2 separate regions of the Homo sapiens genome follow, and region 2 is linked to region 1. Evidence: fine-mapped expression QTL. A gene starts in region 1. The other region holds a variant in brackets. All regions are shown on one strand. Distances are from middle to middle.

Region 1 (5,363 bases):
GCTTCCTCCTGGGAAACGGGTAGGGGCTCTACCCTTCCTGCCCTGGGGGTAATTATGCCCCCACCCTGTGCCCTTCCCTTTGAACAAAGGGCAGCCTAATCCAGAACAGGATGGTGAAAGGGTTGAATTAACATTGGCCCATTTTATAGAGGGATAAACTGAGGCACAGACAGGCCCATGCACCTGCCCTCCAGGTGCCTTTCGGGTCTGCTGGCCTCCAGGTGCTCCATCGTAGGTGGGAGGGACTTCCTGCACCTTCAGACCTGAGCTGGGTCCTGGCCCGAGAAGGGGGTACTCCCACACCCCTTTATCCCGCTGCAGGGAGCGTCTCTCCAAAGCACCCCCAACCTGGGGCAGGTGTCTCAGGCCTCTCCATCGGAGATAGGGGTGGCAGCTGGGTTTGGTGTTTAATATAGCCTTATGGTGGAGGCCTCTCAGACACCTGCCGCCATTAGGTTACACGTGGCCCTGGGGCTGGAAGGCTGGATTCAGGCCTTGTTGTCGGGGGCAGCTCTCCTGCCGGCAGTTTTTTGTTTTGTTTTGTTTTTGAGGTGGAGTCTCACTGTGTCACCCAGGCTGGAGTGCAGTGGCGCGATCTCGGCTCACTGCGACTTCCACCTCCCGGATTCAAGCGATTCTCCTACCTCAGCCTCCCAAGTAGCTGGGACTACAGGCGCGCGCCACCATGCCCGGCTGATTTCTGTATTTTTAGTACAGATGGGGTTTCACCTTGTTGGCCAGGCTGGTCTCGAACTCCTGACCTCTGATGATCCGCCCACCTCCGCCTCCCAAGGTGTTAAGATGACAGGCGTGAGCCACCGCGCCGGCCCCGGTTGCAGTTTTGTGGAGGGAGGAGGTGCAACTAGGTGGAAGGACAGAGAGAAAGTTGCAATGCCGTGTGCTAGTCTAGGGAAAGGGGAGGGAGACGACTACAACCCCGCCCCCAACACTCAGGACCGGGGACCCGAGCCCGCCAGAGACCCTCCACAAGTGAGGGTCCCCCGGGGTGGCCCCTGCCCGCCCTCCAGGCTCCCCTGGGGCTCACGTCCGGGCTGGAGCCTGGGCCTCTGCGCTTAGCCCCCTGGGGTCGCTTCCCGCGCACACAGCTCCCTGCAGAGCACGCGTCCCCCTCCCGACCGCCTTCCTTGCACCCCGCTCGGTGCCTCAGTTTCCTGCTCTGCGCAGTGGCGACAAGAAGGTTGCCAACTACAGAGAGGAGTGAGGGCTGGAGACGTGCAGGGACCTCCCTGGAGGGAGGCGCGGGGCACGTGGTTGGGCAAGCGACCGCTCAGACCGTGTAAGTCATCACCACCTTCACGGGGGGGTGGTGGGCAGCCGAGCTCCCGACGCTGGTGACAGCCGGGCCGGGCAGGGTCGTCCTGGTTTCACAAAGGGGCTCCGGGTCCCAGCGCGCACCTCCCCACGCCCGCGCCGAGCCCCCGTCTGCAGCCCGTCCCTCCCCAGAGGGAGGCCGGCGGGACCCTGGTTCCCTCCCTCCGACGCCGCCCGCCCAGCTCTGCACCGGGTCTTTCAAGCCCATTTCTCAGACTTGGAAACGGCGGCTCCGGAGAGTGAAGTCACTCTCTCAGGGTCTCTCCGTCTAAGGGGCGAAGGTGAAACTCCGAGTCCACGAGGCCCAGCGTAGGTGCTCCGTAAGAAGGGAAGAGACTTGGTCCCGGATCTGGCTCCGATGCCTCCGGCCAGCCCGCCCAGGCGGAGCCCCAGTCAGTCCCCTCTTCTTCCCCCGGGGCGCTCCCGCCCCAGCCCCTGCCCCCGGCACCCTCTGCGCTTGGGGCCGCGTCGCGCACTTTGCCCACCGTCCCTAGGCCGGGGGCGGGGCCTCCCGCGGCGCTGTTCCCCTTCCCGTTTATTATTTATTATCCTTTAAAGGGGCCGCGACCTGAAAATTTCCGTCCACTCTGCCCGGCTCCCCAGCGCCCCCGGGCTGGTTGCGCGTCGTCAGACCGCGGGAGGGGGGCGAGGGGGCGTGCGGGGAAAAGTGGGGAGCCCTGGCGAGGCCCTCCCGCGCCCGGGCCGCGGCGCTGAATCACCGGCCAGGTATTTGCATCCGAGAGCGACTCGTCCCCTGGTGATTTGTCTGGGGGTGGGGGAGGGGCGGGGCGGGGGCCGGCCGCGCGCGGGGCGCCTCTTACCAATCGGGCGGAGGGGTGTAGACGCGGACGCGGCTGGCGGCTCGGTGAGTCGGCGCGCGGCACAGCCCCGTGGGTCGGGGGCCGGGAGCCAGCGGCGCGCACCGGCGGCTGGAAGCCAGGCGGGCCCGGGCAGGCCGACCCCAGGCGCGGGGCGCGCGCCCCACTACGAGCCGCCCTGCGCGGTAAGGCTGGGGAGCGCGCTGGCCGTTCCCAGCGCGGGTTCCGGTGCCGGGGTGGGCGCAGTGCGTCCTGGAAGCCAAAGAAGGGGGTCCCCAAAGTTGGGCGGAGATGTTGGTGGGGGTCCCGGACTGGGAAGGCGGCCCTGGCGGGCTGGGGTTCGGGGAGTTTTCTCTGCACCCCGCTTGGAGACTTCACTCCCCACTGGATCAATCGCTCAGGGGCGAGCAGGGGCGATCGGGGGTCGCGAGTGCGCGCCCCCCCCTCCCCAGCGGAAGGAAATGGTCTCTGCGCGCGCGCGGGGGGCTGCACCCCGATATTTTATTTCATTTTTATTCTTTCTCCCCGAAATCAGGGATTTATTCGGGAGCCCAGAGAGGAGGGAGGGTAGTTCCCGGCGAGCCTCCCCAGCCGGGCTGGTTTATTTATAAAGTGTCCGCCCCAGCGCAGAGAGGGGCCCCCGGGGGAGACACCGCGGCCCCCGGGCGCCGGGGTGGGTTGGGCCCGGGCGCCCGGTTCCTCGGCGGGGATACCCAGGAAGAGCCCCCTGACCCGTTTCAGGGCCCCCCAGACACAAAAGCGGGCGCAGGAAGCGCTGGGAGCGCGCGTTTGTCAACTCCAACGCTCGGCGCCGGCCCCGGGCGGCGGGTTCAATTATCTTCCGTTTTTAGGCGCTCGGGCTGGAGGGGTTCCCCCCCCCATGCAAATCGGCCGCTTTCCAAGAAGCCTTTGAAATCCGGACCAGGGTTTCTGTCTTCTTATTTCTTCTCCTTCTTGAGTTTTTTTCTCACTTCCTCCAGGCCCCCCCAACCCAGGACTTTCTTAGCCCCCTCCCCAGCTTTCTGCCCCGCCCCTCCCCCTCCTCTTCCCTTCGTGGAGTGAGGGGCCCCTTTCGCCACCCGCGGGCCCGGGGCCTTGCACAACTCTTTAAATAACCATGTTTTGCAAGGCCCGCGCCGAGCGGGTGACCTCTCTCCGGAGGCCTGGGGGGAGGAGGGTGTGGCCCAGGATCCCTCCGCCCCCCACCCCTGCCTGGTCCAACGACCACCCAGCGCCCCGTCCCAGCCTCTCCCTTGGGGCTGTCATAAAATGGGGGTGGGGGTCGAGGACAAAGGGCTCTTGGGGGGAGGGGTCTGAAGGGGGTGGGCGTAGCTAGTTTAGGGTTATGGCGGCGATGGGGGGGCACCCAGCCCTGACCTAGGGGGGAATCTGGGATCCCCACCTGCCCCCTCCACCGGCCCCAACGTGGAGGTCTGTCCTGCTCCCCTCCCCCACCCGGCGACCCGGAAGGGTCATTAAACCCAGCAGGGCTCGGAGCGGGCTGGTGGGGGGAGTGGCTTCCTTTGGCCTCTTCCTTCTGTGCCCCCAAAGAGGGGGGGCTTTGCTTGGAGCTCTTCCGTGGGGGGGGCCTTGTCTTGAAGTTGTCCCAGGTGGGGGAGGGGCGACAGACCCGACCAGACCCTGAGTCAGAAATGCCCCCTCAGCACTTTCTTGGGTTGGGTGGGTGGGGGGTGACCTCCAGCCTGGGGATGGGGGGCTGGGTGCCGCCCTGGTGGCCTCCGGACCGCCAGGCTCTCCTGGTCACAACCCAGCGCTATGGCCCTGAGGTCTTTGTGACCTGGGACCTCTGTCCCCACAACAGATGGAACAGAGGCTATTTTGGAACATGCCCTCCTCGCTTTCTCCCAGGGGCCACCCACCTGCCCCCCACTGCCTTTTCACCCATGGGGCCGAAAGACTCAGGGGTCTGGGTAAAGGGTGTCTAGGGCAGAGGGGCCACAGGACTCTCTTGTCCGGTGACTGGGGAGGCTTGGGGGTGTCTGCTGTGCAACACTGACCTGGGTGGGGTCGGGTCACAGGAGGGATCTGAGTCCCAGGGGTCCCTGCCTCCTCGTCTCTCCAGGCCTTGTCTGCCCAGGAGCTGTGTATGAGTCTTGGGGGCTCCTTTGCCAGGGTAAGGGTTGGGGGTGGCCTCCTGGGCCCAGCTGCCTCTCGGGAGGGTGGAGCTTTGCCCCCTCCGCTGTCCCCATGATGTGCCTTCCCTCTGGGGTGTCACTCCAGGCCTGTTGGGTTCTGCCCGGCCTGTTTTATTGGCGGCCTGGGCGGGTGGAGGTGTGGCCTGGGCTAGGGGGTGGCTCGGGTGGGACCCAGGCCCCAGGAGTCTCTGTTCTTCACCCAGGCCATTAGGACTGGCCCTGGGTGGAAGGCACTCTAGGCTGGGTGAGTGTGTTGCCGTCCGAGACATCTGGCCCACTCGGGATCCCAGAGGACCGGGAAACTCCAGACCCCTGTTGCCCTGCAGAGATTGTGGGGTCTGCGTGGGAGGCTCTGTGGTCACCCAGACCTGGGTTCAAATCCCACCGCCATGTCTCCAAGCAGAGGATCCCTGAGCCTCAGTTGTCCTCAACCATGAAATGGGACCGCCCTGGTGCCCCCTTCTCTGACACCTGTTGGTGCCCACCTTAACCTCCTGAACTCGATTCATCCCTCCTTGAGTGCCATGGGTTGGGGGGGTACTGTTACCCACACTGTTTTGCAGGTAGGGAACCTGAGGTCCAGAGAAGTTGTGGCTTGGGCGTTGCTGTTGAGTTGTGTGATGGGGGGAGGGTTAGCCCAGGGCCCGTATACAACAGGCGCTCAATCTCCAGTCTGGCCTGAGATGGGAGGATACCTAGATACCTGGAGGCCAGGCTGGGCCGCTCCAACAGGGACTCAGGCAGCGACTGGAACTTAGAACCCACCTGACTGGGGCCCGGAGCCCGCTGGCCAATCACAGGCCAGGAACGCCCATTCCCCCACCCTGCTTGTGAAGCAATAATCCAAGATCTCCTGGGGCAGACAGTCTGGCCACAGCGTGTTTCTCTGTGGCCCCGTGCGGGGCGACCTTGCTACCCAGGCCCACAGTAGGCTGTATGCGAAGAGCCTGCGCCTCTGCCTCCAAGAAGGCCTCCAGGTCTGCATCCTGCATGAGATGGACATGAGAGCTGATCCCCAGGGCCTTCATGGGGAAGGAAGGAGGGGGCTTGAGGAGCT
Region 2 (5,306 bases), 49 kb after region 1:
GCGTTCAGGCAGCCCTGATGGACCGAAGGCTCTGGTGTCTGGTTTGGCCCCACAGCAGTGTGGGCCGATCCTGTTTACCTCATACATCCCTGCACTGTGTGTTTTCATTTTTGTCTGCTTTAGTTCTCTTTTATTTTCTATTCACCACACACTCACCACTCCCAGCTTCTCGTGTCCAGTGAAACCCCTGAACCAAGATCACTGAATTTTTGTTTTTTTCTTGTTGCTTTGGGAAATTTTTTTTTCTCTGTAGGGTTTTTAAGAGGTTTCGGGGGTTTTGTTGTGTAAATATTCTATTTTATTCTTGGGGGGATCAAACCTTAGGAAAAGGATATCTATATATCTATATAGCTATATATTTGTGTTCCTTCAGGGAAACTGGTCTTGAAAAAGCAAGAAAAAAAAGCAAAAAAAAAAAAAAAAAAAAAAAAAAAAAACTCACCTTTTTATTTTTCCCATGACCAATTTGGGTCCCTTTGTCCATTTCTGGGGGTGCGTTGGGCAGCTGTGAGCCCAGCACATCGGATCCCTGGGGCTAGAGCCGCGGAGCCAATGAACTCAGGTGCTATGGGCCGGGCTGGGGCAGAGGGTGCATGCTGGGGTCCCACCGGCCAGGGGCCCCTGACAGTGAATTGCTGACTGTGATATTCCACGATGCTTTTGCTTGTGCCGTGCTTGTCTGCTGGGCTCTCGAGTCAGGGGCCTGGAAATTTTTTTTTTTTTTTTTTTTTGAGACGGAGTTTTGCTCTTGTCGCCCAGGCTGGAGTGAGTGCAATGGTGCGATCTTGGCTCACTGCAACCTGCACCTCCCAGGTGCAAGCGATTCTCCTGCCTCAGCCTCCGGAGTAGCTGGGATTACAGGCGCCCGCCACCACGCCCAGTTAATTTTTGTATTTTTAGTAGAGATGGGGGTTTTGCCATGTTGGTCAGGCTGATCTCGAACTCCTGACCTCAGGTGATCTGCCCGCCTTGGCCTCCCAAAGTGCTGGGATTACAGGCATGAGCCGCCACGCTGGCCCGGTCTGGAAATCTTATCTAAAAAGTAGCAAGTGCTGGAAAAAGGGCCTGGGGGGCGGGGGTGGTTCTTGTCGAAGCCCCCAGGCTCCTGTCTCAGGGATGAATGTGGCGTCTCATTGGGATTCTTCTCTTGCCCGAAAGGGCTGCTTTTGAGGACTATCAATACTGGGGAGTGGGGGTGAAGCCGGACCTCACTCAGGGTGAGGATTTCAGGGCCCCGGCATCCTGAACACCCCCCACACCCCAACATTCTCCTCGCTCTGTCCCTTCCTCTTCTCCCAACCCCTTTTGTGCTGGGGCTGCGAGCTCCCCGAGTTCTGCGGTGACTAAATCGAGGCCGAGAAGGGAGGCTGCCCCCCACCACCCTGTGGGTCAGTACCCCTCCCCCTGGCTTGGAGAAAGTGGGGTCACCGCAGCTGAGCTGGGGGGTTATTTTGGCTGGAGCTGCTGGAGCAGAAAGGCTGGGTCTGAAATGCCCAGCAGGGTCTGGGGACTTCGTTGGACCCGCGTGGTGTTGGGCGGGGCTGTCGTGTCCTACACGGGAGCTCTGGGCTTTCATTTCTCTTGGGGTGCAGTGGGGATTAACTCAGCTATTCCCAGGGTAAGCCTGGGTCTCTAATTGGGCCCTGGGAGCCCTGTTAGGCCACCGGCATGGGGGCTTGGTGAGGAAGGGGACTCCCCAGCTCCCCCCACTCCCAACCACCTCCCCATTGCCTTGGAGACCCCTGGGGAGGGGGCTGGGGGGCTTCTGAGCCCCTGAGTCTAGGTTCACTTTCCCGTCGGGCTGTGGGAGGGGACTGTCACTTTCCTGTGTCTTTGGGGAGGGGACCCCCACTTCCTTCTCGGATCTCAGGGCCGTGGACACACACCCCCTTTCCAGGAGGGGGTGGTGGGCGTCTAGGTTTTCCTTGTCCCTTCCTGGGGCCAGCACCGTAGCAGCACAATCACCCCGGGAAGGGGGTGTCTGTTTGCCTCCAGACACAATCGGGCCCCACTCGCAGAACCACCTGGACTCTGTCCGTGTCTGTCCCCCGGCCTCCAGGGCTCCTCTCCCGGGACCCCCGTCCCACGCCTGGGCCCCGCGCCGGGGGAAGCGCCTGCTGCCTATCTCTGTCTACCTCAGGTCTGACTTTTGATGCCAAAATCTGAGCCCCTGGGGTGCCTCTCCCCCGCCTCCCGTGCACCAGGGTCTGCAGCAGCCACTGGGGCCTGGCTGCCTGCTGCATCTGGCGGCCCTGGACCCCTGGGGCCCCCGTGCACCTGCCCACCTCGGAGCCTGGGGAGGGGC[C/T]GTGCAGGGTCGAGGGCTGGGTCGTCTCCCTCGGGCTGCGTGTGTGTGTCGGGAATCCTGCGTGTCGTGTCTGTGGGCGATCCGGCCTCCCGGCGGTGGGTGGACCTGGATTCTAACTCAGAGGACTTGAGCCTGCTGTTAACTCCGATGATTGTAGGGACAGGCGGGGTGGGTGGGGGGTGGGCGCGAGGCTGGGTCCCGGCCCAGGAGAAGGAAGTCGCTGAAGGCAGTGGCCATGCTGGCCGTGGAAATGGGAGGCGGTTGCAGAGGGTCTATGGGGCCCGGTCCTGGATACTCGGCAGGAAGCCGTGTCTGCAGAGGCTCCTCCCTGCCTCAGGTGGCCCCGTTCAACCCCAGCCGTGCCCATCTCCTGCCACCGCCTGTCGGTGGGGGTTTAAATTCGGTGTGGCTTTCTGGGGTGCAGCTCAGCACCCCCCCTTATGCAGACTGGGAGGGGGTCGGGCAGTCCCCTCAGCCACGAGGACCCTGGATGGGTTCTAGTTCACTTGGGACCGTGGGGCCTGGCTGCGTACTGAGTGGGTGCCCCACAGTCAAGGCCAACGGGGGCTCCCCCTGCTCTGAGATGTTGGGAGAAAGGCGGCTTCTGGAACCTTCCGTGGGACCCGTAAGTGGCTGTCCAGAAAGGCGGGAGGGTGGGCACGGGGCACGGGGGGCAGCTGGGGTCGTTGTTAAGGGTCACGCATCTGTACAGTTGAATTTCCTTTCTCTTATCATGTTTTACCCACCTTGTCCCTTTTTTCCCCAATTGTGCTTTTGCATTTTTTTCCTTGGCAAATGTAAACTCAGCCTTTCATTCATGACGTGTGAAATTTCAGTTTCTCTGGAGTTTGTCAGACGGCGTGGGAACCACGCCTGAAACTCAGGTAATAGGAGGAAAAAAAAAAAAACTTAAAAAAATTTTTAAAAAACATAAAACTACTCTCTACCTCTGGCTGGGCCCAGCCTGTCTCGCCCTGGCCGCGGCAGGGTGGCCTGTAACAATTTCAGTTTTCGCAGAACATTCAGGTATTAAAAGGAAAAAAAAAAAAAAAGACAAAAAGACCAAAAAAAAAAAAAAGTGTGATTTTGAAATTTAAAAGAACACTGAAAGTTTACATTTTATAGTAACATTATTATGCAGATTGTATTTAAACTTCAGAAATATTTAAGACGATTGTAACCCTGTAAAGCTGATGAGATATTAAAACGAGACAAAACACTTCTGACTTTTAACAGAAAAGTGTCCTGTGGTGTTTTTTTTCTTTTGGCGTCTCCCCAACCTCCAGCTCCACCCTACACCCCTGCCCAGCACAGCCAGGGGTGAGTGGAAGGGGGTGCTCTATCCCCCTCTGCCCTGCATCGCTCTAGGTCTGGTTCCGGGCGGCAGAGACAGCTACAAAAGCGGGGGTCTGGCCAGGTGCGGTGGCTCACGCCTGTTATCCCAGCACTTTGGGAGGTCTAGGAGGGCGGAATCACCTGAGTTCGGGAGTTTGAGACCAGCCTGACCAACATGGTGAAACCCCATCTCTACTAAAAATACAAAATTATCCGGGCGTGGTGGCGCGTGCCTGTAATCCCAGCTACTCCGGAGGCTGAGGCAGGAGAATTACTTGAACCCAGGAGGCGGAGGTTGCAGTGAGCCGAGATTGCGCCACTGCACTCCAGCCTCGGCGACAAGAGGGAAACTCCATCAAAAAAAAAAAAAAAAAAAAAAGCAGGGGTCCTCAGCCAGGGTCTGTGCCCCCAGGGGGACCCTGGTCCATGTCTGGGGGCATTTGTGGTTGTCACGCCTGGGGGGGCGCTCCTGGTGTGGAGTGGGTGGAGTCCTGGGATGCTGCTCGGCACCCTGAGTGCCCAGGACGGCCCCACCGCAGAGAACAATCTGGCGCCCAGCATCCACACTGCAGGAGTTGGGAAATTCTGCCTTCATTATTTAAGGTGGGGTAAAAACAGTTCTCCCTGCCCACAGCAGACACCAGGATAAGCTCCTGACAGGGCAGACGGTGTAAACCCGGGGGAACCCAGCTCCTGGGACTCGCCTCCTCTCTCCCTCCCTACTCAGGGCATGGATTTCAGTGTGTGCAGCCTCCTGGGACCCCAGCAGGGCCGAGGATCATGGGATGCAGAGTCTGTAGGGGGTCCATGGAATCCCCTAACCCAGAGGGCCTTAACCAGGGTGATTCCGCCCCCAGGGGACCCTGGTCCATGTCTGGGGACATCTGTGGTTGTCCCATCTGGGGGGAGCTCCTGACATGGAGTGGGTGAAGTCCAGGGACGCTGCTCGGCACCCTGAGTGCCCAGGACGTCCCCACCCCAGAGAAGGATCCAACCGCAAGGTCCACAGGGCCGAGGGGAGCTCCTGGAGGCCGCTCTGGGCACCTCTGTGCCTCGCTGAGAGCCCGACACCAATCCCGTTTTAGGGATTTGGGATGACAGGTGTGGCAGGGCCAGTGTGCGCACCCCCAGCCACCTGCCCACGAGCCTGACCCCTCGCCTCCTGCCTCAACAGGGCTCTGCATGCGGGCGCCCCTGGCGTTATCCGACCGGAGCTCCCAGGGCAAGTGGCCCGGTCCGGCCTCAGGGCCTTCACACAGCTGTTCCACCGCCGGGAACAGCCCTCTCCCCCTTTGCTCTGACAGACTCCTTTCCATCCTCTGCAGCCGACACACAGTCCCCGCCTGCCCATGACAGGAGGGTGCGGCCCCTCGGGTGGGAGGCACGGGGCTCCCCGCTCCTCCGCCCTCTGTGCGGCCCAGATGGAGGCCCTTGTGCCGAGCGGGACACCCTGTTCCCGAGCCCCCCATAAGTTTGCCCTCCTTCACCTCCTAGGCGAGCCCAGGAACCAGCCCACTGGTGAAGCCGCCTGGAGCTGAGGCCTCTGGGGTTCAGGGGCGTCCTGGTGGCTGGGGGAGGGAACTTTTCCAGTGCTGGCCACATTTTCACCTTTTCCCTTACAACACCATTCGGGTCCTAGGAAACAAGACCAAGGGCCAGATTTGGC

What was found. PIP is the estimated chance that this variant, and not a neighbour inherited with it, causes the effect.
Region 2: its variant is fine-mapped to the expression of ARID3A in fibroblasts (GTEx, PIP above 0.99).

What each region holds. Positions count from the first base shown.
Region 1 is chr19:923,863-929,225 of GRCh38, forward strand. ARID3A (AT-rich interaction domain 3A) reads left to right here and starts at 2,173. Exons shown (of 9, transcript NM_005224.3): 1 at 2,173-2,197. RefSeq lists silencers at 1,033-1,122, 1,213-2,142, 2,233-2,302, 2,723-2,962, 2,950-3,142 and an enhancer at 2,347-3,107.
Region 2 is chr19:972,395-977,700 of GRCh38, forward strand. ARID3A (AT-rich interaction domain 3A) reads left to right here. Exons shown (of 9, transcript NM_005224.3): 9 at 1-3,545. Among named protein-coding and RNA genes, the nearest start is that of WDR18, 9.3 kb to the right of the region's middle. The variant C/T (reference allele first, on the strand shown) is at 2,306.